4 linked regions of the Homo sapiens genome follow. The protein of the gene in region 1 purifies or fractionates together with the protein of each later gene. This does not show direct contact. Each region holds a gene or a part of one and is shown on either strand. Other genes may lie near its edges.

The links.
Region 2: the proteins of NISCH (region 1) and KIAA1671 purify together in Homo sapiens (affinity purification with mass spectrometry, with the first as the bait; one large-scale study listed by BioGRID). This does not show direct contact.
Region 3: the proteins of NISCH (region 1) and FRMD1 purify together in Homo sapiens (co-immunoprecipitation; one large-scale study listed by IntAct). This does not show direct contact.
Region 4: the proteins of NISCH (region 1) and LACC1 purify together in Homo sapiens (pull-down; one large-scale study listed by IntAct). This does not show direct contact.

The regions. Positions count from the first base shown.
Region 1 is NC_000003.12:52,484,931-52,492,972, reverse strand, and holds part of NISCH (nischarin), read right to left. Parts: intron 7,196-8,042; coding exon 7,146-7,195; intron 5,778-7,145; coding exon 4,368-5,777; intron 3,638-4,367; coding exon 3,295-3,637; intron 2,899-3,294; coding exon 2,742-2,898; intron 2,269-2,741; coding exon 2,140-2,268; intron 1,622-2,139; coding exon 1,460-1,621; intron 1,102-1,459; coding exon 491-1,101; 3' UTR 1-490. UniProt on the Homo sapiens protein: Acts either as the functional imidazoline-1 receptor (I1R) candidate or as a membrane-associated mediator of the I1R signaling.
Region 2 is NC_000022.11:25,041,675-25,049,734, reverse strand, and holds part of KIAA1671 (uncharacterized protein KIAA1671), read right to left. Parts: intron 506-8,060; coding exon 371-505; intron 1-370.
Region 3 is NC_000006.12:168,067,701-168,075,760, reverse strand, and holds part of FRMD1 (FERM domain-containing protein 1), read left to right. Parts: exon of another isoform or gene 1-13; coding exon of another isoform or gene 14-22; intron 23-28; exon of another isoform or gene 29-169; coding exon of another isoform or gene 170-241; intron 242-425; coding exon 426-516; intron 517-8,060.
Region 4 is NC_000013.11:43,888,022-43,894,845, reverse strand, and holds the end of LACC1 (purine nucleoside phosphorylase LACC1), read right to left. Parts: intron 6,090-6,824; coding exon 5,864-6,089; intron 4,733-5,863; coding exon 4,573-4,732; 3' UTR 4,572-4,572; exon of another isoform or gene 4,567-4,571; intron 3,398-4,566; coding exon of another isoform or gene 3,244-3,397; 3' UTR 914-3,243; downstream 1-913. UniProt on the Homo sapiens protein: Purine nucleoside enzyme that catalyzes the phosphorolysis of adenosine, guanosine and inosine nucleosides, yielding D-ribose 1-phosphate and the respective free bases, adenine, guanine and hypoxanthine.

The sequences.
Region 1 (8,042 bases):
TCCCACTTGTCTGGATCAGGGGAGACCTCCACTTTGAAGAACAATATGGGGTGGGAGCTTCCAATGTGCATTCTGCTACCAGCCTCAGGATTAGCAGCAAGATGCCAACAGCAACAGCAACAGCAACAGCAACAGCAACAGCAACAAAGGACTGGACTCGACACTTCAGGAAAGGACGTGTAGAAGAGAAAGTCAGACCCACAGTGTCACGTGTTAACAACGGTCCCACAACAGCAGACACGACACTGGTGTGCACGGCTGTACCACCTGTGGGAGGCTGACAGCACACCGACAGCCCTGAGGGGCCCGGCATTCTCACTCCCAACATGAGAAAGAATTAACACAACACACACACATGTTCACATTCTCTGCGAGGACAGTCAAATTAAGGTACCAAAGGGAGGATAAAACATTTTTAGAGAACACAAAAGCCTGCTGCCCTGCCCCAGTAGGCGTCAGGCTGGACACGACAGGCTGGCTGTGGCCTGGGCTAGCCGGTGAGCTCGACAGGCAGCTCACGGCCACACAGGGCCTCCCACTGGCGAGCCAACAGCGAGATGAGCTTCTCTCTGCTCTCAGCACTGGGGACAAACACCTGCCACTGGACTTCACGGCCCTGGCTGGCTCTAGCCGGGCCACCTGGCACCTCCCCAAAGTGGTCCAGGGTGACACTGCCCATGAGGTCATGACCTTGCACGTCATCGAAGACGAGGGTGAGGGCCTGCGGGTAGGTCTGGTAGCCCATGAGCACTCGGTCCAGGTCCCGGACGCGGCGGCCATCGTCCAGCCGGTACCTGTCTCTCTGCGGCGGCTCTTTGGCAAACTCGGGCAGTGGGTAGTGGACACAGTCCTCATCCAGGAGGAAGATCTCGGAGCTGGTGAGCAGGAGTGTCTTGGGGCGCAGGGGGCCCCTGCAGCACCCAGGGGGTGGCATGCCCACCTGGAAGGCCTGCACGTACAGCAGGATGCTGAGGGCTGGGGCCTTCTCTGGCTCAGCCATCTTTTGGGCCACAGTGAACGTCAGGTCCCCAATCTCCTCCTCACTGGGGTAGGTAAACTTGACGCGACTAGAGTGGATCAGCTCGTAGTTCTCCATCTTCCCTGCAGAGAGATGCCACCTGGGCTATAGCCTGGAACCGGCCCCTGGTGGGGCTGGGAGCACCAAGGGCCCCAAGCCAACCGAGAGACCCCGGCATGAGACAGGCAGGAGAGGATGCTCCAAGTGTGGGGCCCACAGGCCAGGAGCCCAAAGCAGGCACTGGAGATGTGTCTGCCAGATGGTTGAGGGACTGCTGGAGTGGAGACTCTGCCATCGAAAAGCCCCACATAAAACCCTGGCCAGCTAAGTGAGAAAAGAGAGACATAGAGGCAGAGAGGGTTCTGGGGCACAGAGAGCCACCCTGGGGCCCATGACGTCTGTCCAGGCAGCCTGTCTGCAGCCTGAGCTAGACAGGGGTACCTGTGGTCTTGTTCCCAAACTCGGAGTAGAAGTCCTTGTCAACAGGCTCCGGCGAGGGCGTGCGTTCCAGAGAGGACAGCACGACCATGAGGTGCTGGAGGAAGCAGTGCGTCAGGTAGCTGTCCCGCGTCAAGCACGTGACCACCTGCATCGGGGTGGAACCTGCACGAGAAGGGGCTGGTCAGGGCCACAGGCCGGCGCTCCCCAGCCCTATCCCTGCCCCTTAGAGCCACCCCGAGTCCCTAGCAAGCCTCAGCCCAGAGGCCAGGGCCAGGAGGGCCCACACAGGAAAGAATCATGGGGCCCGGGAGGAGGCCATTCCTTCAGGCCGGAAGAGCTGAGGCATTTTTCTGGAAGGGGAGACAGAGACATTAGGCAAAGAGCTTAGCTTTCTCTCCTCAGGAAATGTGAGTCAGAAACATCCTGCCCGAGACCAGGGCCCACTCTGCTTCTGTCCGGGCCAGCGCTTGCCGCACACCCTACCTCCTGCTCTGAGCCCTGGAGCGTGAGTTCTGCTCTCTCAGCAGTTCCTGAAGCTGCTTCCTCCCACCCCGGTTAAGAAGTGGCTCTTGAGCACAGAGATAACTGTCTATGATAACCCACCCACGTACGGAAGGTGGAAGCCCACTGGTGATGCTGGCCTTCACCCGAAATAGGACAAAGCACAGAGGGTCACCCACCCGTCAGCCGGAAATGCTGGTCGAAAAGCCCCACATTGACTGACTGCAGGTCACTAAGCTTTAGCACGAAGCACTGGGAGATGTGGAAAGGGCTGTTGTTGTAGTCGGTGTTTTTCTGATGCCAGAAATCTGTGTGATGGAGAAAGGGACAGAGGGAGGCGGTGGCAGGCAAGCACAAGGTTCCTAGGTGTGCAGCACATCCAGCAGGAACAGGTCCTCTTGGCTGGCCTGGCTTCCACCCGTGCAAAGCCCCATAGGCAATGCCCTCTGGAGTCGGAGCCTCTTCCAGCTCAGGGGAGTCACCAGGTCGCTGGCTAGGGCTTCCTGTGCAGCCCCAGGGGCAAAGGCTGCCTAACCCCTTCTCATCACTGGCTGTTCCCAAGCAGTCACCAGGCCCTGGCTCAGTGCATTCTGCGTTCACATCTGGCCATGGACCCCTCCCTCATGACAGCTCCCTTCCTCAGACAAGGAACTCTCAGCCCACTGCAGCCAAGTCGCTGACTGCTGCCTGAAGCCACACAGCTGGCTCCAGAGAATGACCCCCCAGGCCTGCCCCAACCACACACTCCAAGCTCCTGAGCCCCAGCAGGCCCTGTGCCTACCCTGCAGTGGCTCTGAGAAGTAGCGGCGGAGGCCGTCGTGGAGCACAAAGTACACAGCCTTGGTGGAGAGCAGCACGCAGGCAGTCACCTCCAGCCCTGGGGTCTGGTAGAACACCACCGAGGACCACATGAGGTGCCTCAGCTCCTCGTTTTCAACCTGAAGACGGGGGGCCTCCTGTCAGCTCCACCACCCTAGCAACCTGCACATACCAGGGACATGCCCACAGCTTCCACAAGGAGACATGGGAAGCCCCTCTTGGCTCACCAATGAATCCGTATGCTTCAAGGCAGAGAGGAAGAGAGGGGTGGGAGATGGCTGTTGGTGGGAGGTCTACCTGGGGCTGGAAGTGGCACAGGAGGTGGTGACACAGCACAAATGGCCAGGGGAGGGCAACTCAGGACCTCACTGCCCAGGTCCTCAAAGCTGTGAGCAGCTCAGCTGAGGACTCCGACATCAGGGAAGTCCAGGGACCTGAGGCTGACCTGAAGCCAAGCTTGGCCTCGCCCTCAGGACTGGCCGTGCCATAGCTGGCACCCACACCCGGGCCGCTACCTCAGCAATGCTGCTGTGGAAGAGCTCGATGATGGCGCTGCCCCGCAGGCTGGCGACGTGCCGGAGCGACGGGCAGGCAGGCAAGTGCGAGGGGATCTGATTCTCCTCCGAGGTGGCCTGGATGAGGTGCTCACTCGGGTACTGGGCAGGGGCCTCGGCTGGGGGTGGGGCTGGAGCTTCCACTGGCGTCTCCTCTGGGACCAAAGCTGAAGTTGAGGCCTCTGCTGGGGCCGGAGTCTTCGCTGGGCCTGAGGCTGAGGCTGCTGCAGGGGCTGGAGCTGGGACTTCCGCTGGGGCCGGGGCCAGAGCCTCTGCTGGGACCTCCTGGGGACGCTGGTCATTGCTGTATCCCCCGAAAAACACCATATTAACAGCGGACCCCAAATGAAGATTCACATCGCATGTGCAGCTTCAGAGTGAGGAGACTGTGTGCATCACACATCACCTCTGGGTTACTGGGGACTTCCACCAGCTTCTCTATTGGAGAACAGAACAGCACGGCCGGGCACGGTGGCTCATGTCTGTAATCCCAGCACTTTGGGAGGCTGAGGCGGAGGATTGTTTGAGCCCAAAGTTTGAGACCAGCCTGAACAACACAGCAAGATGTTGAGGTGGGTGAAGCCTAAGGCAGATCCTGGCCCACAGAGCCATCCGTGGGACTGTGACCCTGGAGGAGGTAGTGCCCAGAGGCCATGCTTGGGCCCAGAGGAGCACAGCAGCCAGGGTGACAGCTCTCCTGGCCTCGGTGTGCTGCAGCCTGTTGCTCTCCCACTGGGCAGGCAAAGGTGGGGCAGCCCCCTTGGCCTGCCCTTCATGGGTGGCAAGAGGCTGGGCCAACCCATTTTGTGAGAGGACAGCTTTCCTGGGCTTCTTCTACAGCACTGAGATAAGGAGCAGCCTGGCACCAAACCTGGGGTGGTGATGTAGAGGGAGGCCCGGGGGGGGCGAGGGGCAGGGGGGGAGGGGGCCCAGCTCTCGCAGCAACTCCCAGCCCACACTAGCCGCAGATGCTGAGATCACACACATGCCAGACCCATGCCCCCGGGGCCCCTGAGAGCTGTGCTTGATCTCACCTGGCCCTGCGCTCGGCAGGCTGGCCATCCGCAAAGGAGCCCTGGGGGCTGCCTCCCGTCCCGGGGGTCTTGGCGATGACCACAGTCTTCAGGTCCTGCAGCGAGGCCCGCAGCTGGTTGTAGACGCGCAGGAAGTGGAACTTCTCGTGGGGCAGCACGAAGATGGCAGTGACAAAGCGGTACCCCACGAGCAGCTCTAGCACGTGGCCATCAGCAAAGGCGCCCCGAGGCTGGGTACAGCTGCGTGTGGGGTCCAGCAGCACGGTGGAGAGCGGCACACGGCTGAGCTTGAAGCTGTTGCGGTTGCGACAGTTGTGGGTGCCACGGTTGGGCATGGGGTTGAAGTCGGCCTTGATGACGTTGAGGTGCTGGGGCGTGAGCAACAGCCAGTAGGGGATGGCGGCGGACTTGACGGCCTCAGAGGGCGCGCAGCAGGAGCGCCGCACGGCTGAACAGAGTGTGCAGCTGGCCCACTCGATGTTGCCTGAGTAGTCCCCGGCGGCCGTCTGCACCATGCGCTTGTCACTGTAGACCAGGTAGACGGGGAAGCAGCCCTGGCTGCGCTCCTGGCAGCCGCCAGCCACCTTGTAGAAGGTGAGCAGCTGGCGCAGGAACTCCTGCAGGCTGGTGTGGCTGCCGTAGAGGATGGGGCTACACAGCATGGCCATGTGCTGGGGTGCAAAGCATGAGCGCAGGTCCGCGTGGAACTCGTGCAGGTTGGCGGCGTCCGAGATAATGAAGAGCGTGTTCTCACTGTGCCGTACCTTGAGCACCAGACACAGCTCCGGCATGAGGAAGCCAAACTCGGTGAGGTCGCCATGCGGGAAGCAAAAGACAAAGCGCAGGGAGGAGAGGATGTGCTGGCTGCTGCCCCGAGACTCCTGGTGCGGGATCTCGAAGACTGCGATGCCGAAGTCGGTGAGCACAAGGCAGGCGGCGAACTGGCGGATACTGCCCTGCACATGGATCAGGAAGCACCACAGCACCTTGAGGATGCGGATGTGCTCCAGCAGGAAGTCCTCGTCCGCGCCCAGGGCCCATTCCAGAGCCAGGCGCTCCTCCTCGGCCTCTTCATCCTCCTCTTCCTCCTCCTCTTCCTCCCCCTGGCCTCCTCCCTCCTCCTCCTCCACGTCTGGGGGCCCCATTTCAAAGTAGCGGTTCTCAGCCACGTCCTCCTCTTCTTCCTCCTCCTCATCCTCCTCCTCGCCCTGTTCACCCTGGCCCTCCTCCCGCTGGTTGGCAGCCTCGATCCAGGCAGGCAGCTGCCGCTCGATGGCCTGCCGGATCAGTGTGCTCAGGCGCTGGATGAAGTCCTGATTGGTGGCCGTGTAGCCAATGCAGGTGAAGGGCAGGAAGATGATCTGGCCAGACCCCGGCACCACCTGGACCTCCGGCTCGGCATGTTCTGGGCTGTGCAGGGAGAGGCCAGGTCAGTGGCATGCTGGGAGGGGCCCCTCCCACCTCCCACCTGCCACATCTGGAGCCCACTGCTACACCCTGACCCTGAGAAACCAACCCATGGGTCTCCCAAGCCTCCCACATGGCCAAGTCAGTTCCCAGGATGAGGGCCCTGGTGGGAGCCAGTGCTGCCTGCTGGAAGGCTGGGTCGCCAGTTTGGTCAGAGTCTATGCTTCTAGGGGCTTGGACCATAGGTGCCTGGCACAGCTATGCCCAGACCACACGAGTTCCCACAACAGAAGCACTCCCATGGACTTCTAAGTCATTCAGTTGCTGCCATAAGCCCCGGAGAGAAGGAACACTCCAGGGCATGAATCTACTTGTCACCCCTGGTGGCCTCCGGGGCAGGGAAGTGGGCTGGGGCAGGTCTTAGGACCTTCACACTTAAATTCCAGCTCTTCTTGGCCACCGCAGCCCTCACATGTAGAGTGGGAGTTAGTAAGCTTCTGTAAAGGGTCAGAGTACACATTTTGGGATTTATGGGCTACCATGTCCATACGATCTTCAGCAGCCCTTTAAGAATGTAACTGTCCAACATGGCGAAATCCTGTCCCTACTAAAAACAGAAAAATTAGCCAGGTGTGGTGGCGGGCACCTTGGGTGGCTGAGGCAGAAGAATCGCTTGAACCCGGGAGGCGGAGGTTGCAGCGAGCTGAGATCGGGCCACTGCACTCCAGCCTGGGTGACAAAGCAAGACTCAGTCTCAAAGAAAAAAAAAGTAACTGTTATTCTAGCCAGGCGCGGTGGCTCATGCCTGTAATTCCAGTACTTTAGGAGGCCGAGGTTGGTGGATCACTGGAGTTCAGGAGTTCGAGACCAGCTAGGCAACATGGTGAATCTCTGTCTCTACTAAAAATATAAAAAATTAGTTGGGCGTGGTGGCGTGCGCCTGTGGTCCGGGCTACTCAGAAGGCTGAGGCTGAGACAGGAAAATTGCATTAATCTGGGAGGCGGGGGTTGCAGTGAGCCAAGAACACGCCACTGCACTCCAGCCTGGGCGACAGAGCGAGACTCAGTCTCAAAAAAAGAAAAAAGAATGTAACTGTCATTCTTAGCTCCCAGGCTGTGGGCCACACACAGGCCTTGATTTGCCAACCCCTGGTGTAGGGCAACATGTGCTGAGCAGAGTTTAGGTATTAGAATTTGGAAACAGATTGAAAAGTCCATCTCATCTGTGTCTCTTTAGAGGAAGAAATAGTTCTATAGGCCTTCTGTGAACGGATTTTTAAAAAAACCTGACTGGCCACCCCTGGCCCACAGCAGTGTGTGTGCATAAGGCTGTGTGGCCAGGCCCAGGTCCCTTTCCAACCTCTTCCTTACCTTGCACCACCAACAGCTCCTGGCACGTCCCTTAAATCATCGGAAGCTGCCTGATGGAGAAAGAAACACAGTCAGTCCCCACCTACTGCAGCCAGCCCCAGCCATTTACTGGTTGCCAGACCCTGAGCTGGGCATTCTGCCCTCCATCACCGCCCTGAGGAGGCTCCCCATCCCCACGCTGTACCCTGGAGCCCACTCTGGGACCCTGGGGCCCACTCTGGGACCCAAGGGCAGAGACCCACTTGGTTATCCCACCAGCACACAGCAGGGCTGGGATTCCCACTCGCAACCTAGGGCCAGAGCCTCTCGCCACTCTCCAGGGATCCAGCATCTGACTGCTCCTTGTGCCACGCAAGGGTCCAGGTAGACAGTCTACAAATTTGGTCCGACCCTAACTGGCCAGCAGTGGACACAGCCCTGGCAAGTCCCTCCCAATGGTCTCTGTGCACTGGGGAATACCTAGGGCTTGGGAATCTCTTGCTGTGTGACCCTGGAAAGGGTGATGGCAGAATACTGTGGAGTACTGAGGACAGACAAGGACTCTGCAAACTGTCCCAGTGTCACAAGGCCATAACCTTGTGCTGCTGCAGAGATGGGGCTGGAGGGAGGCCCAGGCACCAAGCACATTTGCGAAGCACACAGCAAGCACCCTTGCTTTCCTCCTGTCTTTCCTCAGGACAAAGGAAGGGGCCCCAGAACTCTCAGTAACAACCACAGAGGAGGCGCCAGAGTGAGACTGTTTCCCAGACCACCAGGGTGACATGCGGAAAGGCGCCGAGTGGCTCCAGGGGTGCCAGGAAACAGAGAAGAAACCCAAACAAGCCCCTGCACGAGGGTCTTTTGAAATGCCTTCCCCAGGGAAGCCTGCTCACAGGGTCAAGGGCCACCCTCTCCACC
Region 2 (8,060 bases), on another chromosome or scaffold:
AAGAAACTGAAGTGCAGCGAAATTAAGTAAATTGCTCAAAATCTCAAAGAGGTTGACAGGAGACCGTGCTGGGATTGGAACCCAGGACTTTCCAACACCAGTCTATGTTCCCTTAACCACTCCATGCCAGGCAGTGCTGGGCTGGAAACTCAAGAGGAAGAAGGTTTCCCCAGCAGAGCCACCAAACACCCTCCACATCAAGAACCACAACACAGCTAGTCAGGTGACACCAGATTCCTGGACAGTTGCCTGCTGCCCTCAACCCCGTCAGGGCCCTGGGCTGTCCAGATGCTCCACCAACCACATTCACAGCAGTGTCCAGCAACCAGCACCCCTGTGCAATCCTCTCCAGCCATGTTGCATCACTCACCACAAAGGGCCCACTCCTCCTGTCTTTGCAGAAGCTGTGGCTTCTCCAGGGAACCGAGGCCACAGGGGACACCTGCTGGAGCGGTCGCTCCTTCTCCTGGGGGGCATCCTCCTTCTCCAGGTCCCGTGGCAGCACCTGAAACACAGAGCACAAGAAAAGGACTTTACTGGGAGCCTTCTCATTTACAGGAAAAAATATATTATGCCAAGAGTCCATTCTGTACCAAAAAGGGCAAAGAAGAAAATTAAACCCCCAGAAATCCCCCACTTTAATGATCAGAGGTAACATGTAGGGCGGTAGCTCTGGGTTCCAGTGGCCCAGCCTCAGCCATTTAATAACTGTGTGACCTCAGGTGGGTGCCTCAACCTCTCTGAGCCTCAACTATCTGGGAAAGGAACCCCATGATGACAGCACCCAGCTTCTAGGCGCTAAGAAACAGCACATGGAATGTACATGATGCAGTATAGCCACCAGGGGGCAGACGTGCACAAGTCCTGGGCACCTGGCTTGGCTTACCCTAGCCTCCTCCATCCCTGGCACCTGGGGAGCCCTCCATAAATGCTGGCTGGCCTCATTACTGCCAGTGGTCATTCTTGGTGACCTTATTTTAATCATCTCTTTATGCACCCAAACACACATGCATAGACACAGAGAAACGGTGCATGAACAGCACAGCACCTCCAGTACATCTACTTGGAATCCTGCTGTTTTTTTCCACTTAGTTATATATAGGGGAAACATTCACAGGCCAGGACTCCAGGATGCATATTTTATATGCTTCACACTCTCCCTGCGTGGACAAGGAAACAAAGGCCCAGAGATGGGAGGGAGCTGCTTAAGAACACACAGCACCAGGAAGAGGAAGACTGGATTTCTAATCCCTTCCCTCACAGCCTCTTTTCTGGATGCCTTCAGAGACCCTCTGGTTTTCCTCCTAACCCCCTGGCTCTTTTTGATCAGTGTCCCCACATGTCCCAGGCCAGCCGCAGAGCCATTTCTCCTTTTGCTACATCATTCCCTCTGGGATCTCTCTTCACGCCCCCCATGGCTTTAAATAAATCCCATCTACACCCAGATGCCTGCCAATTCTGTTTCTCAGTGTTGGAACTCCAGACTCGGAGATCCCACTGCTCACTCAACATCTCTTGGAAGCTCACACTCATCTCAGATCCACGTGCTCAAAACATGCGTCTTGATTCCATCTCTCCACAGTTGCTCCTCCCACACCTTGCCCATCCATCCCCCAGCTGGGGAGGCCAAGACCTTCGGGTTGCCCTCCATTCTCCTCCCCATTCTCTCCCACTTTTCTCCACTGCATCAGCAAAGCTGAGACTCTACCTGCAAAACATGCTGCAAATCTGACATACTATATACCAAAATCAACTTGAAATAGATCAAAGACCTAAATGTAAGAGCTAAAGCTAGAAAACTCTTAGAAGAAAATAGAGGTGTAAATCTTCAAGAGCTAGGCTTAGGCAGTGATTTCTTAAATATGATACCAAAGGCATAAACAACAAAAGAACAATAAATAAAATAGACTTCTTCAAAATTAAAAACTTTTGTGCTTTAAAGGGTACCATTAAGAAAGGGAAGGCCAGGCGCAGTAGCTCATGCCTGTAATCCCACCACTTCGGGAGGCCGACGCAGGTGGATCACCTGAGGTCAGGAGTTTGAGACCAGCCTCGCCAACATGGTGAAACCCCGTCTCTACTACAAATACGAAAATTAGCCAGGCATGGTGGCGAGCGCCTGTAATCCCAGCTACTTGGAAGGCTGAGGCAGGAGAATTGCTTGAACCCAGGAGGTGGAGATTGCAGTGAGCCGACATCACACCACTGCACTTCAGCCTGGGCAATAGAGTGAGACTCCATCCATCTCAAAAAAAAAAAAAAAAAAAGGAAAAGAGGCCAGGCATGGTGGTGGTGGCGGCTCACGCCTGTAATCCTAGCACTTTGGGAGGCCAAGGCAGGTTGATCACTTGAGGTCAGGAGTTCAAGACCAGCCTGGGCAACACGGTGAAACCCCATTTCTACTAAAAATATAAAAATCAGCTGGGCAAGGTGGCACATGCCTGTAATCCTTGCAACTCGGGAGGCTGAGGCAGGCGAATTGCTTGAATCCAGGAGGTGGAGGTTGCAGTGAGCCGAGATCATGCCACTGCACTCCAGCCTGGGCAACAGAGCAAGACTCTGTCTCAAAAAAAAAAAAAAAAAGAAAAGAAAAAAAATTAGCCAGGTGTGGTGGCATGTGCTTGTAGTCCCAGCTGCTTGGGAGGCTGAGGTGGGAGGACTGCTCGAGCCCAGGAGGTTGAGGCCGCAGTGAGCCATGATCTCACTACTACACTCCAGCCTGAGTGACAGAGTGAGACGCTGGCTCAAAAAAAAAAAAAAAAACTCTCAAGACACATTATATGAAAAACAGAAAGGTGGAAAATCTGTGGGTTCAACAGAGATCCTCAACCCAAGATTCCCCTGGGGAGCCTTCATAACTAACAAAGGCAGGTCCTACCCCAGAGATTCTGACCTAACTGGCCTGGAGAGAGGCCCAGTCATTGATATCTTTTAGGATTCCCTGTGTTACTCCCATAGGCAACCAAAGTTTCAACCACTTAGAGAAAGTGCTCTTTATTATGGAAAAGTGAAGCAAAAATAAAAATATGTATTTCTATGTGCTTGTATTTTCATAAAGAAGCCTCAAAAGAAAAAAAGGAATTTAAAAAAAAGGAATAAAAGTGATTACCGGGTGGAAGAAATGTAAGCATGGCAGGTATCAGGGGAATGTTTTTTAAGTATTTTTGGAGTGGAGCCATGTGAAATCGTCTCTCTCTTAAAACTAAAATAAATAATTTAAATAAATGAAATACTGTTGGGTCTGGGAAACAGTTTCTATAAATGTCTGTTAAGTGAAGAACAGAGAAAAAGAGAGGAAGGGATGGAGAGAGGAAGGGATGGAGAGAGGAAGGAATCACTTTAATGACCATCACACCCTTTTGGGCTGTAAATCAAGAAACCCTCACCCAAGGAACCAACCTTGTTTCTTTTTCTTCTTCTTTTTTTTTCTCTTGAGACAGAGTCTCGCTCTGTTGCCCAAGCTGGAGTGCAGTGGCACGATCTCCGCTCACTACAATCTCCGCTTCCTGGGTTCAAGCAATTCTCCTGCCTCAGCCTCCTAAGTAGCTGGGTCTACAGGCACCCGCCACCAAGCCCGGCTAATTTTTGTATTTTTAGTAGAGATGGAGTTTCACCATGTTGGCCAGGCTGGTCTCAAACTCCTGACCTCAAGTGATCTGCCAGCCTCGGCCTCCCAAAGTGTTGGGATTACAGATGTGAGCCACTGCACCCGGCACAACCCTGTTTCTAACACACACAAAAATTCAAATCCACCCAAATACCCATCAATGAGAGTCTAGGTTAAAATAGATTGGGCTCAGTCACATAATACAATACTTCGCAACCATTAAAAAGAGGAAGGGGAGGCCGGGTGCAGTGGCTCACGCCTGTAATTCTAGCAGTTTGGGAGGCCAAGACAGGTAGACTGCTTGAGGCCAGGAGTTCAAAACCAGCCTGGTTAACATGGTGAAACCCCATCTCTACTAAAAATACAAAAAATTAGCCAGGAATGGTGGTGTGCACCTGTAGTCCCAGCTACTCAGGAGGCTGAGGCAGGAGAATCACTTGAACCCGGGAGGCGGGGGTTGCAGTGAGCCAAGATCCTGCCACTGCACTCCAGCCTGGGCCACAAGAGCAAAACTCCATCTCAAAAAACAAAAGTAAGCCACAAGATTTTCTATAGACTGTTGTAGTTTTCCATAGAAAGCTTATGTATTTACCTATATCTAAGTCTATGCATTTACCTTTATCTATGTCTGTGTCTAGACCAGGGTTCCTCAACCTACAAACTGCAAACACTTGGGGCTGGAGCATTCTTTGCAGTGGGGGCTGTCTTGTGCCTTGTAGGATGTTGGGCAGCATGCTTGGCTTCTACCCATGAGACGCTAATAGCAACCTCTTCCCAGGGTGTGACAACAACAAAATATGTCTCCAGACACTGCCAAATGTGCCCCAGGGGCAAAATTGCCCATAGTTAAAAACCACTAATGGGCCTAGAGGGGTGTTCCCCAGTTTATGCACCACGCTCAATATTTAAAGGAGATTTTCTCTCTACACCATTTTTCTATAGTATTTCAAAATTTTTTTTTTTCTTTGAGACGGAGTCTCTCTCTGTCGCCCAGGCTGGAGTGCAGTGGCGTGATCTTGGCTCACTGAAAGCTCCGCCTCCCGGGTTCACGCCATTCTCCTGCCTCAGCCTCCGGAGTAGCTGGGACTACAGGCGCCCGCCACTGTGCCCGGCTAATTTTTTTGTAGTTTTAGTAGAGACAGGGTTTCACCGTGTTAGCCAGGATGGTCTCAATCTCCTGACCTCGTGATCCACCCGCCTCGGCCTCCCAAAGTGCTGGGATTACAGGCATGAGCCACCGTGCCCAGCCAGTATTTCACATTTTACGCAAGCATTCGCTACTGTTGCAATATGAAAAGCATGACAATTATGCATATATATATGATTGATAAGTGACTGTCAATATAGGAAAGTCCGAAAGGACATAAACAATGTAATGGTGGCTGCCTCTGGGGGAACACTCACCTTTTATTTTCTATACCCCTGTAAGGTTCAAAATTTTAACAACCAACATTTTTTCCTTCTGTATTGGTGTGTTTTTATTTTTTTTTTTAAGATCAAAGAACCAAAGATCTTTTGGCAGGAGACAAGAGAGAAACGGGAAGCTGGTCCAAGGCTTCCCAATCCCGTGGTGAGAAAACAGATCCCCTGACAACCAGCACTGCTGGGGCCTGCGTGCTCCAGGCAGGCATCCAAGGCTGGGCTGCGGGACAGAGCTGAGCCCAGGATCCCCCCTCCACAACATCCCGACTCCCCCACCACCAGCGGGCCCTGAGCAAGGTGCTGGCAAACATAAGTGTCGCATTTCCTTGGCCTCTTCCTTCTTCCACTGTTACCACAACATCAGCCTGCAGGTAGGGACAGATGAAACCCTTCTCAGGAAGCACACGGGGATGGCCCAAGTTCGGTGCTTTATTTCAATTCAGTCTAATAACAGTGCTTTGGGGCAGGAATCCCTGTTAACTCTGGCATGGCAACTGAGGCCAGGAGAGGCCAAGAGGCTGCTTTACACACAGCAGGCAAGTAGCAGCGTGGAGATTCAGATGCCAAGTCTGCGTGATCCTGCACATGGTGGTTGGAGAGCTTGGCCTCTTGGGAACAGACATGGGTTCAAAGCCTGACTCCATCACTTACCCACTCTTAACTGAAGGCAAATCCTCACCGCATGATCATTACTGACTGTATCCTAGAGTTTCCTTTCTGCAGCATCCACTTCCAGACTGGCCACCTAGTCCCTTTTACAGACAAGAAAACTCGGGTGCAGGGAGGTGAAAGGTTTTGCCCTGTATCACTCAGCTGCAAGTGGCAAAGGAAGAATCTGTGGCCTGATTTGCTGATGCCACATCACACAGGGCGGTGCTAAGTCCATTTCCACATGTCCCCCACAACATTCTACGCTCTTCCCACCTCCAAACCTTTGTCCATGCTGTGCCCTGCTGAGAATGCCCTCACCTCCCCTCATCAGCCCACCCAAAAGCATGGCCAACCCTCAAGCTTGGGCTGAGACCACCGACTCCTCCAGGACACCTTGGGCCACCTCTCCAGTGCCTCCCTCTGCACCCCATCACTCCCCAGTCTTGGATCACAATGGCCCATCTCCCCACAGAGATCAGAAGCTTCAAAGGGTGGTCCTTATGCCTCAGATTTCTTCCCCACCTTCGTGGTTCTTCACCAGAATGGTCTCCTAGAATATGGCCCAGTTGGGTAATTAAGGCCAGATTTGGGTTCAAATACCAGTTTTGTTACTTACTGCTGTGTGACCTGGGACAAGTTATTTCACCTCTCTGAGCCTCTGTTTTTTTCCCCCCATCTGTACAGGAAGATGATCACACAGCAGTAGGTAGTGTCAGCACTCTGCCCAACACTCAGGTATATGCCAAAGATCAAGAGAAGGGGCCCTCTGCCAACACCCTAGAGCCTCACTGATAGATATTTGGGTAGATTTGAATTTGTGTGTGTGTGTTAAAAACAAAGTGGCTTATTTGGGTGAGGGTTTCTTCACAGCTATTCTGCTTATGTACCCCCAAAAGGGTGTGCTTGTAATTAAAGTGATCCCTTCCTCCTTTCCTCCCCACCCCCCACCCTGCCATCCATTCTTCTCTTTCTCTCTGTTCTTCACTGAACAAAGGAAGCCAGATTTTCTTTCTTCTGCTGTGCATGGTGCCAGCCAGGATGGAAAAGTCTGAATGTTCATGACCCCACAAACAGCCTCAGGCAAGGACAGAGGGATTGGAAAATACATACTCCAGGTCCCTTGACCCCTGGACATGACAACTTCAGAGGTGTTCCATGCTGCCTCCCGGGGTCCCCAGTGAGATGTGCCTCTGTGGCCAACCATGGCCCCTGTAGCACCTGCCTCACTTCTTCTCTCCCCTACTGGTTCTTCCTGGGATCACCCCCTTAAAAAGTGCTTACAGGCCGGGCGCAGTGGCTCGCGCCTGTAATCCCAGCACTTTGGGAGGTCAAGGTGGGCGGATCACGAGGTCAGGAGTTCAAGACCGGCCTGGCCAAAATAGTGAAACCCCGTCTCTACTAAAAAAAAAAAATACAAAAAATTAGCCGGGTATGATGGCGGGCTCCTGTAATCCCAGCTACTTGGGAGGCTGAGGCAGGAGAATCGCTTAAACCCAGGAGGCGAAGGTTGCAGTGAGCCAAGATCACACCATTGTATTCCAGCCCAGGTGACAGTGTGAGACTCCGTCTCAAAAAAAAAAAAAAAAAAAAACAAGGGACTGCTGGAACCCAAAACCATGGTGATCCCTCTTTTGAGGCTCACGTAAGATCACTTGTTCACTCATTCAACAAATACTTCTTGAACATTCACAGTATGTCAAGCATGATGCTGGATTCTGGGGACATAATAATGAACAGGATACAACAGGCTATTATACAGCAGGAGCACAATAAAGCTACCATTGATATCTATCATTATCGTCATTGTAGGACAGAAGTGTAAAACAGGTGGCCGGCGCGCTGCATGGGGCTAGCAGACAAGTCTTGTTTGGGCTGAACAGCATTTTTAAAAATAAGTCCTCCTCATTTCCTAATGGGAGGATTACACATAAAAATCTAGATTTTCAGATTCTCTTGATAAATGAGGTTTGCCATCTCAAGGCCAGCATTCCTGCCTGTGAAGAACCAGCTGGGCCAGGCATGGTGGCACACGCCTGTCATCCCAGCACTTTGGGAGGCCGAGGCAGGAGGATCACTTGAGCCCAGGAGTTTGAGACCAGCCTGGGCAACATGGCAAAACCCTGTCTCTACAAAAAATAAAAAATTAGCCAAGCATGGTGGCGCATGCCTGTCATCCCAGCTATTTGGGAGGCTGAGGCGGGAGGATGGCTTGAGCCCAGGAGATTATGGCTGCAGTGAGCCATGATCATGCCACTGCACTCCAGCCTGGGCAACTAAGCAAGACTCTTTGTTTCAAACAAACAAATAAACAAACAAAGAACCAGGTGGGACCAAGCAGCAGTTGTCCAGTTCAGATAGGGCATGAGCTCTCCATTTGCCA
Region 3 (8,060 bases), on another chromosome or scaffold:
CATCAGTTGGGCGATGGATGATGTGAGACACCGATGCTCGCGCTCATGGGGAACCAAGCATTCATTTGTGCCGTGCGAGGACAGAGCCCAGAGGGCGGCCCTGGAGTTGACGCTGCATCGTGTGTCCCTGACTGGTCTCGGGAAATCCTCACACCAGAGACAGACAGGGATGGAGGGGGCAGCCCTGATCCACTGTCCAGAGCACCCCACCCCCTCCACCCTCACTTCCCGGCACTCACAGGTGCTCTGATGGGCATGCAGCGGTGTTTAGCTTTGGGAGAGAGTGAGAGACCCAGACCTGTTACCTGCAGGGGATGCCTGACTGGGTCGTCCACCTGGTGCCCCGCTGGGCCTCGTTTGCTGAGGTGGCCTCCCTGGGGACAGGTGCCGGCCCCTCCCTGAACCCCTCCCCACCTCTTTTGCAGGTGAAGGCTACTGGCCGCGAGCTTTTCCAGCAAGTGTGCAACGTGGCGAGCATCAGAGACGCGCAGTTCTTTGGCCTCTGTGTGGTCAGAAGTAAGCATCGCTCAGTCCCCACCTGCAGGAATGCCCAGGGGCCGCATCTGCTGGAGGTCAAGGGGGTGGGCACACCACACACATCCATAATGTACACAGTTATACACCACTCTCATATGTACACATGCACACACCATGCACAATGCACAGTTACACACCACTCACATGTACACATGCACACACCACACACATGCAGGTACACACCATTCGCACCATGTACACATGCACACACCACACACATGCACAGTGCACACAGTTACACACCACTTGCACGTGTACACATGCACACGCCACACACGTGCAGTTACACACCACTCACACTTGTTCACATGCATGCAGCACACACATGCACACAGTTACGCACCACTGACATGTACACATGCACAAACCACACACATGCCCACAATTACACACCACTCACACGTACACATACATACACCACACACATGCACACACACACCAGTCACACATGTACACATGCATGCACCACACACATGCACACAGTTACACACCAGTCACATGTACACATGCACAAACCACACACATGCCCACAATTACACACCACTCACACATACACATACACCACACACATGCACACACACCAGTCACACATGTACACATGCATGCACCACACACATGCACACAGTTACACACCACTCACATGTACACATGCACAAACCACACACATGCACACAATTACACACTACTCACATGTACACATACATACACCACACACATGCACACACCAGTCACACATGTACACATGCATGCACCACACACATGCACACAGTTACACACCACTCGCACATGTACACATGTGCGCACCACACACATGCAGTTACGCACCACTCACACATGTAAACATGCACACACCACACCTGCACAATGCCGATTGTGCTGTTCTGGGGGGCAGTTGGCTCCAGGGGCTTCTGGAAACCTCTGTACAGTAGCAGGACCCTGGATCTATGTGAATTCGTACCTGGAGTTCTAGTACACGCAGACGGCAGGTGGAGGGGAGTGGGGCCGGTCCCCTGGGCTCCACAGACCCTGCAGCTGGATTGTGTCGCATGGAAGAGCCGTGAGAACCCAAAGTGCTTCATGTGCACTTTTTGCTGCCCCAGGAAGTGAGTGGCAGCGCCTGTATCCAGTCTCACTAAGGACTGGTGGCTTCTCATCTATAGTGGGGGCTTGAGGTTGGCAGCACAGACAAGCCCTGGCCCCCTCTCCCCAGCCAAGCCGAGGGAGGCTACATGGGGCATGGACAGATGGAGATGAAGCTCAGTGCTGACCAGCGGTGGCTGAATATCCCCCTGTCTTGCTGCCTGGGGAGGACAGGGCTGAGCTGACCTCTCCCAAGCTCTCCCCAGAACAAGTTGCCCTCTGTCTAGGGGAGTGAGTGAGCCGGGGACCCTGCACGGGACACCGGAACCCACACTCCATCCTCCCAGTGTCTGCAGCGCCTTGTCAGGGGCTGTGAAGGGAGCGTGAGATTTTAGGATCCTTTTGGACGAAGCCATCTTGCTGTGACCGTCCTGTGTGGTGCCCTGGGGTTCCATCCTAAGTTTCTCTTCCAACCATCGTGAGTGTGGACAGAAGCCAGCCTTTCCCTCAGCGCGGGTGGCCCCGGCCCCTTCTGTGCCTCAAAGTAGAGGCGAGAGTGCCCCTGTCTCAGTCTCCTCCTTCCCTAATCTCCGCCTGGAGCAGAACCCTAGCTCCATCTCAGGGCTGCTCTGGGGGCTGTGGGACCCCTGGGCGGTGTGGAAGGAGGACCCTGGGGGGCAGAGGGAATAAGATGGGGTCCAGCAGGCCAGCCTTTCTGATGTGACCTCATGCATTTAGACCCAGTCCTGAGTCCCCCAGGGGACCCTGAGTGGACACCATGAGCCCCTGAGGGCAGGTGTGGATCTGGGGCTTCCTGTGTCAGACTCTCCAGGCAGGGTGGGGAGCAGGGAGAGCTGGAGGGCGCCTCCCTTTGCTGCTGTGTTTGTCAGGCAGCCCCCACCCGATTCCAGCCTCCAGCAGCTTCACTTGGTGTTGCAGGGGGGTGACTGGGGGTGGGGAGGTGGGAAACTACACCCAGCACTGGGCTTACACCCGGGAGCAGCAGATGTCAGTCTTGCTGTCAAGGTTGAATACTGGTGGACTTTTCCCAGTTTTCAGGGAAGTTCTAGCCCAGTTAATATGTTTGTCCACAGCTGCCATTCATGCCACCCTGTGCAGGAGCCCAGTCAAAACACGTAGCTTCCCAGACCCTGTGCCCCCATGGGAACCTGAGCCATCTGAGGGCTGTGGACAGAAGTCTCCAGGCCCCACTTTTAATCACAGTGAGAGTCACTCAGGGGAGGGCGGGATGTTGACTTTGGAGAGTCCAGTTTTGCTATTCGGTTTTGTGGTTGGTGTCATCTCTCTGTGATTTTAGAAATGAAAAGAAAATTAGTCTGGACAGAATGAGGGAAGAAAGTTCAAGCGTCCCAACCCTGTTCTTGGCATCTTTTATTTCTTAAAGGCTTAAAGTCTCTTTAACAGCCAAAAAACAAATCGAGGGCGGGGTGGGGATTGGGGGGAATTCAGGGGCTGCCCGCAAAACCCGGGCCAGGACCCATCGCTTTGGTTGTGCATCATGTTCATCACCGCCGGACGTTCACCGACATGTTGGAGCCGCCGTGTTTGGGGGGCGAGCTCTGGTCCGCGCTCCACTCTGCCTCGTCTGTGCCCAAGTTCTCGGCACTGAGGCTTCCCTGCTCTCCCAAGGCGAGAAACGCCCCAGGGCATCCCCCTCCCTATGGGAGGCCCTGCACAGGGCGGGTCGCTGTGGTTGAGAGGGCCTCTGGGAGACGTGGTTCGCAAGGCGACCACGGGTGTGAGGGCACGGGGAGTTCAGCCCTATCCGGAGTTCAGGCACAGCCCCTGATGTCCCCGAAACCTAGAGACAGCAGGTGGTGTTGGGGGGTTCTGAGGGTGGAGTGTGGGGGTCCCCCAGAGGTCCAGTGGCAGCTCCTTGGGGAAGGACCTCCCCTCCCAGCAGGGGGTGCAGGGCAGGGCGTCTCTCCTGTTGCCCAGGAATCCATCACCCAGGCGGGGCAGGTTCCCGGTGGCCAAGGATTCTCCCGGTTTATGTGCTGATGATCCTCGGTGTTGGGGAATTGCAGACAGGTCATGAAGTCGGCAGCCCCGGCTTGGACGCCATCGGCTGGCTTCTAACCCTGTTTCCCTTTCGACTGAGGCACAGTGTCCGTGTCATCAGCTGCCCAGATGCTAAGGGGAGAGCTCACGGGCATTTGCCGTGTGTCTGAGCACAAGGGCCAGCAGTGGGGAGGCCCGGGAGGCAGGAGGCAGGGGTCCTTGAGTCCTGAAGGTCAGCACAGGATGAGGGCCTGCAGCGCTGGGACAGCCTTGAGCAACAGGAGGGGCTGGGAGGGTGGCCTGGAACAGCTCCCACTGGCGGCCAGGCAGGTGCACACAAAGGGAGATTACTGGCTCATCAGCCAGTGTTTGCCTTGTCTTTACCCTGCGGAGGGAGTTCCCAGGTGGGAGGGCTTTCCGACTCCTGCCAACCAACCCTTTCTCACGTCTTTCTTGATGATGTCCCCTTTCTCCCTGTCCCCTTGACACTGGACATTTGAGACAGCCTGTGGCCGAGCTCACTGGCCTCAGGGACAAGAAAGGAATCTGGGGTCACCTTTCCTCCTGGTGATCCAGGAATCCGCCTCTGCAGGAGGAGGACAGACTCAGAACCGGCCCCTCAACCTCCCTGGCGCTGCGGTTTGGCACCTCCACCCAGCAGAGCCCTGTGGCCCCAGGGCCTTCTTGACCCGAGGACACCCTTCTTGGTTCTGGCCAGAGCCCTTGCTTTGGAGATTTGGACTTTTTATACGGGAAGTGCTTGGATTTCTTACTTTAATTATCTCTTAAGTTGTAAATTGTGTACATTTTTGAGACATTTTGTGAATTGTGTACATTTTTGAGGCCTGTAGCAAAAAACAAGAGATGTGATTTGGGGCTTGGATATAGAGGCAAGGCAAAATAAGACAGAGACAGAGAGGAATAGAGAGAGAGTGGGCTCCACCTGGCCTGGCCTTGGCCCTCGCTGCCTGGAGCTTGCTCCTGTGGCAGTGAGCAAGGGTGCCGGTGTCCAGCCCCTTGGCCAGCCCTGCAGGAGTCTCGTGCTGTCACACCAGTGTCAAGGGTAGCAGGGCACAGTGGGGAAGTTCAGGCCTTTTGTTCAATCAACAGGCACCTGTGGACTCCATGGTGTGTCCCGATCTGCCTGCCACGAGCTGAGAGGATGACTCTCACTGGGAAGAGAGTGAGGAGGCTCTAGAGGGTGCATGTAGTCCCCACCCTGCTGGGTTCAGGGGAGCCTGTAGCCAACGCCAGAATCTCCCCTTCCAGCAGCAAGATGCCGGTCCTCCAGCAGACAGTCATGTGCCAGTCAAGGCTCTCCAGAGAAGCAGGACAAGTAGGACGCGCACGCACACTCCTGACAGATGTATGCGTATGTGTATGTCTGTATACACGTATCCTTCCGATCCCATTTCTCTCTACAGATAGTGTGTGTGTGTATAGATACATAGAGGGAGAAAGAGAGAAGCTGATTTATTGTAAAGAACTGGCTCATATGATTGTTGGAGGCTGGCAAGTCTCAAATCTGCAGGGCAGGCTGGAGACCCAGGGAGAGCCACTGTTGCCATCTTGGGTCCGAGGGCCATCGGGAGACGGAGTTCCTTCCTCCAGAGGGGACCTCAGTCTTTCCCTGTTAGTCCTCCAACCGACTAGACAAGGCCCACCCACAGTATGAAGGTCATCTGCTTTGCTCAAAGTCTACTGATGTAAATGTCTCCCTCCCTCCCTCCCTCCCTCCTTCCCTCCCTCTCTCCCTTCCTTCCTTCTTTCTTTCCTTCCTTCCTTCTTTCTTTCCTTCCTTCCTTCTTTCTTTCCTTCCTTCCTTCTTTCTTTCCTTCCTTCCTTCTTTCTTTCCTTCCTTCCTTCTTTCTTTCCTTCCTTCCTTCTTTCTTTCCTTCCTTCCTTCTTTCTTTCCTTCCTTCCTTCCTTCATCTCACTCTGCCACCCAGGCTGGAATGCAGTGCTATGATCATGGCTCAGGTGGATCCTCTGGCGTCAGCCTCCTGAGTGGCTGGGACTGCAGATGCATACCACCACAGCCAGATACCTTTTGTATTTTTTTGTGGAGTCGGGTCTCATTATGTTGCCCAGGCTGTCTCAAACTGCTGGGCTCATGCAATCCACCTGCCTCTGCCTCCCAAAGTGCTGGGATTACAGGCATGAGCCACCACACCCAGCCTGAGTGTCGCCTTCATCTTAAGAATGTCTTCACAGTGACATCTAGACTGCTTTGACCATACAGCGGGGCACTGTGGCCGGGCTAAGAAGGGTGCGCCCATCACCAGAGGTGATGATGTCTGCTGTCCCACTGCTAGGGGTGCAGGGGTTTAGGGGGACAGTGATGATTTTGAGAAACAAGTGGTTTCATCTTCTAGATCGGTGTTGCCGCAAGTATTGTTCTCGTAGTGTTTGAGGTTAAGTCCTAGGAAGTACTAAGCTTAAGGAGTTCATTTTCTGTCCTCCTTATTATGATTTGAGATGGAGTTGGTAAGGATACAGTGGGGTGATTTAGGTAATGAATGTACAAATAAAAGGCCTTTTGCTGACCTTACCGAGGCAAAGGTAACCCCAGATCCTTTAGCGAACATTGCTAAACATCTGCCACTCATGCTGCAAACACTGAGTTCAAGCTCGAGTACCCAAATAGTGAATTCGGGGGAGTCAGGACCAGAGAATGGTGATCTAGACCTTTTCACTCGGCATTTGCTTAGACCGGGCATTGGCAGACTTTTTCTGTAAAAGGCCACATAGTAAATATTTTGACTTTGCAGTACGAAAGCAGCTATGGACATGATGTAATAGAATGATTGTGGCTGTCTACCAACAAGATTTTATTAACAAGAGCGAGTGGGTGCTGGGGTTTGGCCTGGGGCCCTGGTTTGCTAACCCCTGGCTCTGAGGGTCCTTGGCCTGTTATGGGGTGGGGTGGGGACTCCCCTAGACTCTGCAAGTCTGGGCCTCCCTGTCTGTGAGATGGGGGTAGATAACAGTGCCATCAGGTTGAAGATGTAGGGATTGGTTCAGAGTCTTTAACACAGAGCATGGCACCCAGTGTCTAAGCAGTGAGTTGCTGTGGTTGTTACCGATGAGCCAAGTGTTTGATCCTCCCTGACACAAAAGTAAACTGGGGCTGGTGACACCTTGGAGCCTCCCCCTGGGTCTAACGCCGTCTAGAAGAGCCAGGTACTAAGGATTAGAAAGACAGGCAGGGCAGAGAGGGGCTGAGCCAGGCACCCGGCCCTGTGATGCCCTTTCTGCAGGCCTCTGTGGGTAAGTCTTCCTCACTGGTGTCTTCATTTATCTGCAGATGTGCTAGCACTTGGGGATGGAGTATCTTCATATGTAATGCAGGTGGCTGTAAGGGAGTACTGCCTTATCAGGGACTAACTTTTCCCTGTGGCTTTTATTCTCAGGACTGCAGGTTTTCTAATATAAATAAGAGTAGACTGTGCTCTGTATCCACGGGTTCCGCATCCTTGGATTTAACTAACCTCATGTTGAACATACTCAAAATAATAACAATAAATAGTACAACAATAAAATAATATGAGCTTAACAACACAGTACAACAAAGACTTCCACAGCATTTACATTGCATCAGGTATTATAAGGAATCTCAAGATGATGTAAAGTGTACATGAGGATGTGCATAGGGTACATGCAAACTCTACACCATCCCCGGGTTTTGATATCCGAGGGGAGTCCTGGAACCAGTTCCCAGCAGACACGGAGGGATTGTACGTTGCTTTAAGTCGCAGCAGGAATGGTGTCTCTCTAGGCTTTATTTTCCTCTCTAGGAAAATTGTTTAATTTTTCCAGGCCATAAAGAAAACACATGCTGGTAAATATTTTTAAAATATAGAAACACCTAATTTAGAAAGAAGCGTCTCTTATAGTTTCCAGGGAAACCAGGTTAACAGGTAAAGCTGGGATCATTGACTTGAAGTTGATCACGTTGGTACTAGATTATAGACATCTCTATTTTTATTGATTGATTGCTTGATTGTTTGAGGCAGGGTCACACTCTTATCACCCACACTGGAGTGCAGTGGCACGTTCATAGCTTTCTGCAGCCTTGAACTCCCAGGATCAAGCAATCTTCCTGCCTCAGCCCCCTGAGTAGCTAGGACTACAGGCATGCACCGCCACACCCAGCTAATTTTTTTTTTTTTCCTGTGGTGACAAGGTCTCATTATGTTGTCCAGGCTTGTCTTGAATTCCTGGCCTCAAGCAATCCTCCTGCCTTGGCCTCCAAAATTGCTGAGATTACGAGGTTGAGCCACCGCATCCAACCCTGACATCTCTATTTTTTAAACGACTCATTCCATAGCTGAGAGAGGGGTGCCTGGGTTGCAGAGGAAGAGGGTAGGGATACATGTTGCTAAGTTGCTTTCCCAAAGGGCGTGCCCGGAGCATGTGCC
Region 4 (6,824 bases), on another chromosome or scaffold:
GGGATGATTTTAGTAACCAGATCACCTTTTCAGAAATTTAGATGTGAACACCAAAAGATGCATTTTCTCAACAAAAATTAATAGCTGGTTCTATTTTTTTAAACCTAGAAAAAATAAAGTTGATTTTTTTCAAAAAAAAAAAAGATTAGTTCAACTTTATACCAAGAAATAATAGTAGAGCTACTTGTTGAAATACCACCTCCTAGTGGTAAGGTCATCTTATTTGTTTTATAAAGCACTGGGGTATAGCATATTTGGCCACTGTGCTATTTTTCACAATTTAAAATTACAGTTGGATAAATGGCCCAGTAAGTTTTAGTTTGATAGTATTTTCAAAAAGGTATTTCATTAATGTTTATTTGACTTACAAACTTAATTCCCCTTATTAATAAAATAGCAATCAATATTTCCTATGTGCAGTTAGTAGCAGTGCTTAGATTAAAAACAAAACTTTAAGAGGAATAAGTTCTAGTGTTCTATACCACTGTAGGATAACTATAGTTAACAATAGTATATTATATAGTTTGAAATAGCTGGAAGGAACATATTAAATGTTCGTAACACAAAGAAAAATGTTCGAAATGATAGATATGCTAATTACCTTGGTCAGATCACTGTACATTATATGAATGGAAACATTATTATGTATCTCATGAATAGGTACCATTGTTATTTATAAATTTAAAATAAAATTAAAAACAAAAACAAAACTTACTAGAAATCTTTGTTGTTGTACCCCAAAAGTCCTAGAAACCTACATACAAATATGTGAGAGTGACAGCTATCTTGTAGACACAATAAGATGATTATTTAATAACCTGATAGTTTGGAGTTACTAAATCAACACTTTTCATTCAGTAAAGCAGCAAGGAGACAACCTTTCATTATATACTTTGGCAGAGATAATCCAAAATCAGATAATCAAAATAATTTTTATTTGGTTGTAGAATGTTGTAGTACATAAAGCAAAATGTGTCTGCAGGATACTCCAAATTTACCAACTTCAAACAAAATAATGCACAGTGAAGAATTAGAAAATTATCAACCTTACTCAATACATGGAAGTATTCCTTAATCTTCATCATTTTCATTAAACAAAATAATATTTTGGATGAGTTCAACATTTCTATCCTATGCTTTATGTTTAGTGCCTTCCCTGAATTGGAAAAAATGAGGTGTTTTATTTAAATTTAACACTGGTCTAAGGGAGATATAGAATTAAACTAAACAAGAATCGGTTATCACAACCTCACAACATATATCAAAGTATTGAGATTGTTGGTTTACTGACTGTCACTTTTCACTGGATATTAAATATCCTGAGGGCTACAACTGTATTTTTTAACCTGTCCCAGTACCTCAACAAAATTTTCACTGAATGTATGAATAAATTATGTTAACAAAAAGTTAACAATAAAAGTATAATGAAGATCCCTTTAATTAATTTTAAAATCTGAAAGGAAAACTGGAGTCACAAAACATATGTTCAAATCTTAATTCATCACAAATTTTGTGATTTTTGACCTCCACCTCAATGAAGCTCAGTTTTCTCAGCTGAATAAAAGGGATAATGCCTGTGTATTTCAGAGTAGCTGTAAAGGTAAAATGAGGCAATGTACATGAAAGTCCTTTGGAAATACCAAACAAATGTTATTTGCTATCATGCTACCACATATACATGTAGGAAATATATGTATTAAATAAGAATATTTTTAAGATGCAATGTGATAACTTACATTAAATATATATACAATTTTTCCCAAATGAAAACTAACCTAATTCCTCTCTTTAACTGACAAACACACTCAAAACTGCTCATCCAAAAAAAGTCCCTTCCTTGAAGATGTAGTCCCCAGCTTTTTCTCTTCTCTAGTAAATGCTGTCAGAAAAGAGTTGACACCTATGCATCTTCTTCCTAATGCACTGAAAGCTGACTCAATGACCACTGCCTATAGAACAGTTTCAATATGTTTAATCCATTGATTTCTTTTAAATTATCACTTTATTTTATCCCTGAAGATTTCTTTTTGAGTACTTTCCACACCTATCCTGGCTTCTTCAAAACAACTACCCTTTTTTTCTTACTTCTGTGACTATAAGGTTGTATTATTGGATCTCCTTTTTTCTCATCCTAATTTCTGCCTAGATGATCAAACCTGCTCCAATAGAATCAGGTATCATCTCTGTATTGTAAGCTTTGAAATATTTGTCTCTGTCTCAGGTTTCCTCCTAATTTCTAGGTCTATATTTCTAATTATTAACCAAAGATTTCTATCTGGATGCCCTTCATTCTATGTAAAGTCAAACTCATTATCCTTCTCTCTTTTTCCAAACCTTCTCCCTCCCTTTGTTGCCAATCTTGGTAAGCAGCCAAGCAGAAATCTTAGAGTCATTAATGACTTTTCCACTCTTCCTCACCTCTTACTTCCATTATCTAGTAACAGGATCTATTGATTCCATCTCTTAAATGTCTCTCTAATCCATCTACTCTCTTCCCTATTTTAATTTCCACTTCCTTCATTGGATCTTCATTATTTCTTTTTGAAATATTTTGATCGCCTCTTATCTAGTCTCTATGCTTTGGTCTCACACAATTTAAATCCATCCTCTTAAATATGATGCCATGGGAAAAAAAAAAAAAACATCCTTACTTTTTTTTTTTTGGCTGCCTACTCATTGCCTGGAAAATAAACTGCAAGCTCTTTGACATTGCATTTGAGACCCTTACTTATCTGTTTCCAACCTGTTTTTCCAGCCCTAACTCATGCCCACACCCTTCTCTCTCTAGAATATGTTATGCACTTTCAGTTTCATGCCCTGGTTCATGGTGTTCCCTCTACCTGTTATGGTTGTTCTTCATTTGTCAAAAACCTCTACATCTTTCGAGCCCATGTGATATGTGATTTTCTCTGTAATATTTTCTCTATCCTGCTTCTGGGTAAAATTAACCTCTATTCCTTATGTTCTCTTCTACTGCTATTAAAATTAAATTTAAGTTGTAGAAGTGTTTATCTCCTTCACTGTATCAGACTCAAAGGAAAAAGTTGTGTTCATTTTGATTCACATATGCTTAACACAATGCCTGACCAATAGAGGGTATCCAATAAATACTGAACTGAACAAATCTATTCCTGATCTGTGTAATAAACAGGGAGAACAAACTTTAAGAATAATTCTCATGCATAAAACATATTAGCTACAACATACTGATTTTTGTCAGTTATTATTACAATTAAATGAAAATCATTTGGCTTTGAATAATAGTAAAAATATACCCAAAAGATGAATTATCCATTGTAATCCATTTGGTTTTAAGTAAATCAAACAGCTAAATTTCTCTCTTGCAGTCAGTTTGGAAGGAGGCAGGAAGCAGTTATACAAAAATCCAGTCAAGTATCTGTAAAATACATAGAAATCAAATATGAGACGCTTACTGGTGTTATTAGAATATCAAGGTAAGAGTCATGAAGTCTATTAAAGTTTTTCTGTAAGTTAAAGAGCTAAAAACATTGTAAAGAGTAAAAAATAATATTAATTCAGCTAGAAGTAACCTTAGGGAAAATTACACATATCTTATAGGGGCAGTGCTAAATCAGTGCCATGAAATATTTTTGTATAATTCCAACAAAACCATCTCTAATAAATACTATTTTAAGAAAATTACACTCAGTCTTGCTGTATGACTTTAGATCATGTGTCAGTGTACTATAGCCTATAGGCCAAATCTGGCCCCTTACCTGTTTATTTTACTGTTTACAGACAGGGTTTATGTTATCCATGCTGTACTCAAACTCCTGGCCTAAAGCAGTCCTCCCACCTCAGCCTCCCGAGGAGCTGGGACTACAGGAGCAGGGCCACTGTGCCTGGCTCCCTCGCCTGATTTTTGTAAACAAAGTTTTATTGGAACACGGACATATTCATTCATCTCTATGTTGTCAGTATCTCTTGTTGCTCTACCTCTACAATGGCGAAGCTGAGTAGCTGAGATATACTGTATGTCCCACAAAGTCTAAACTACTTACTGTCATTTTAAAATAAAAATTTGGGCAACTCCAACTGCAGATAATCATTTGGAAATCTAGTTGAAAATCAAGCTAGTTTCTTTGTGAGAATTTCTTATGATTCTAGAATTCAGAATGTTTATGCAAAGATTTGTTTTCAAAAATAACATGAAAGTTATAAGGATGTGAGGATAGGGAATGTACAGATATCAAGTACATAGTAGAGAGAAAGGAAATACTTACATACCTTTTTAAAGATTAAATTGTTTTATTTTTATACTTTTAACATAAGCCTGCCTAATTATTCTTCATTAACTAGGAAAAGGAGTGGCTGCTCTTCATAATAGAGTGTTATTGGAAATGAACGTTGCTACCACTATTACATCACTAAAAAAGTAGAAACATCATTCTCCCTGTAGGAATAAAGGAGTAAAGTTTAACATAATTAACTTTTTTTTTTTAAATAAGGGGAGGAATAGGCTAAAAGAGGAAGAAAGAGAAAGGGAGGGAGAAGTGGAGAGAGGGATGAAAGAGAGGAAAAACGGAGAGAGGAGAGAAAACCTACTGTACCTCATTCTTTAATTGATATGAAGCCAATCTGTGTACCAAAATTAAGGCCATCTCGGACATGGGAGAAAAACTTGTCAGGATGGCAAGATGTACAGAGGTTGAGATCTTGGTTCTGGTCCTGAATATTCTGTGGAAGAATTCCTCCCTGTTCTAGAAGAATCCTTAGGAAAAATATTTTTCAAAAGAGAGCAAGAGTTTATTTTCCCAATAGCCAAAGCAATATGAAAAAAAGTATGGATGTTGGCATGAAAAAGTTCCAGGAAAGATGTACCTAGAACAATGTATATTGTTATTCACTTACAGAACATGGACTAGTCAGGGAAAAAAATGCTACACTTTATCAGCATTTATCACCTAAGTTCATATATGCACAGTACAACCTTCCATATTGTCTTATAGACATAATCTAGGTACAGAATTTTATAATCAAAATCAAGTGCTTATTTAAGAAGAAATGTCTACAAAAGTTACCAGGATATCAGGCAAAATTCACCTGGCTCAGCCAGAGTATGCTTTTTAGTCATCTGGCCCTTCATCTCCTTTCCTTCTATTAGCCAGATTTTTCTCAGAAAACTTGCTTCTCCATGAACACTTTATGATATGAAATATGACTACAAGTTAGTGATACTTGATTTTAAAAGTCACATTTAAGAATCAATTTCAAACTTTTCCACATCTGTACTAAATGAGGCAGACTCTGGGTAAAGTTTTGGCGACTGGAATAGAAACATGATTTAAAACATACATTAATTTGCCTTTGTAGTAATGACAAATAATTTTCACCAGTTATTAATAACAAAACCTTGTAAATTAAAAGATGCGAAGAACTGTAAAAAACTTAAAAGTAAAAAACCGTGTATTTATATTATCTAATATTTTTTCTAAAAAACATATTCCTCTAGTTAATTAGATAATAAGAATAATTTTAAAATATCAGCTTCCTGATAGTTCATTACATTTAGGAGAATTTAGCTGAGGAATGGCTGTGAAGTAAAGTACACGCCAACTTTTCTATATGAAGTTTAAGTAGATCTCTTAAAATTAAATGCCAAATATTTCTTCCTTCACTTTTAAATCAATGAAAGATACCAGACAGGAAAATTTCTGTTATTCAAACTCAAATGAAAACAGATTTCATATTTAAAATGAGTGTTTGTGTACATGTGCATGTCAGCTGCTTAAATAACCACCACCTAAATTCTTCTTAGAGTTATTAATTGTTCTCCAAAATAAATTTCATTTTAGAACAATCAGAAATAATCAAACTTGCAGTTGAATGAAATCAGACATACCTTGTGGCTTTACGGATGTCGATACAGGGATTTGGTGAATCAAATAGTTGTACACATGCAGGATGAAGATTATGAAATGCCTCTGCTGATTCCCTTGGAAGAGTAAAACAGCAAGGTCCTACTGAAGGTCCAAGTACAACAACAATGTCTTCCAAACTGCAGCCATATTCTGCTATCATAGCATTCACTGTAGCCATAGCAACACCCAACAAAGTACCTTTCCAACCTGGTAAATAGGAATAAAAAGAGATAAGAGAAGTCAAAACATAAAAAATTTCACCTGAATTTATGTCTAAGTTAAAAGTGAGCAGATTTAGTTTGTATATTTTTCAAAGTCCAGAAATAATAAATTACATTATCATGTGGTTTTTAAATGAGCCATACTACACAAAGCACCTGACACAGAAGAGACATGTAATGGGAGTTTTCTTCATCTTCCATTTAAAGATGCTCTATACTTTTAGTTTCCACTGAGATCATAGCTTCTTAGTCTTCTATTTTTCACATTTTAAAAGATTGTGGTTAAAAACCCACAAAATTTACTATTATAACCACAAAAAAATACTATTCTAAGTATACAGTTCAGTAGTGTTGAACTCACATTGTTGTATAACCAATCTCCAGAATTTTTTCATTTGATAAAATGGAAACTCTACAACTATTAACAATAACTCCTTGTTTCTTCCTTTTACCAGCCCCTGGCAATCACCATTCTTCTTCCAGTTCCTGTACATTTGATTACTGTAGGTATATCATATAAGTGAAATCAATACAGTATTTATCTTTTTGTGACTGACTGATTTCACTTAGCATAATGTCCTTAAGGTTCATCTATATTGTAGTATGTGTCAGAATATCCTGCCTTTTTAAAGCTAAATAATATTCCATTGTATGCACACACATTTTGCTTATCCATTCATCTACCAATGTACCTTAGATTGCTTTCACCTTTTGGCTATTG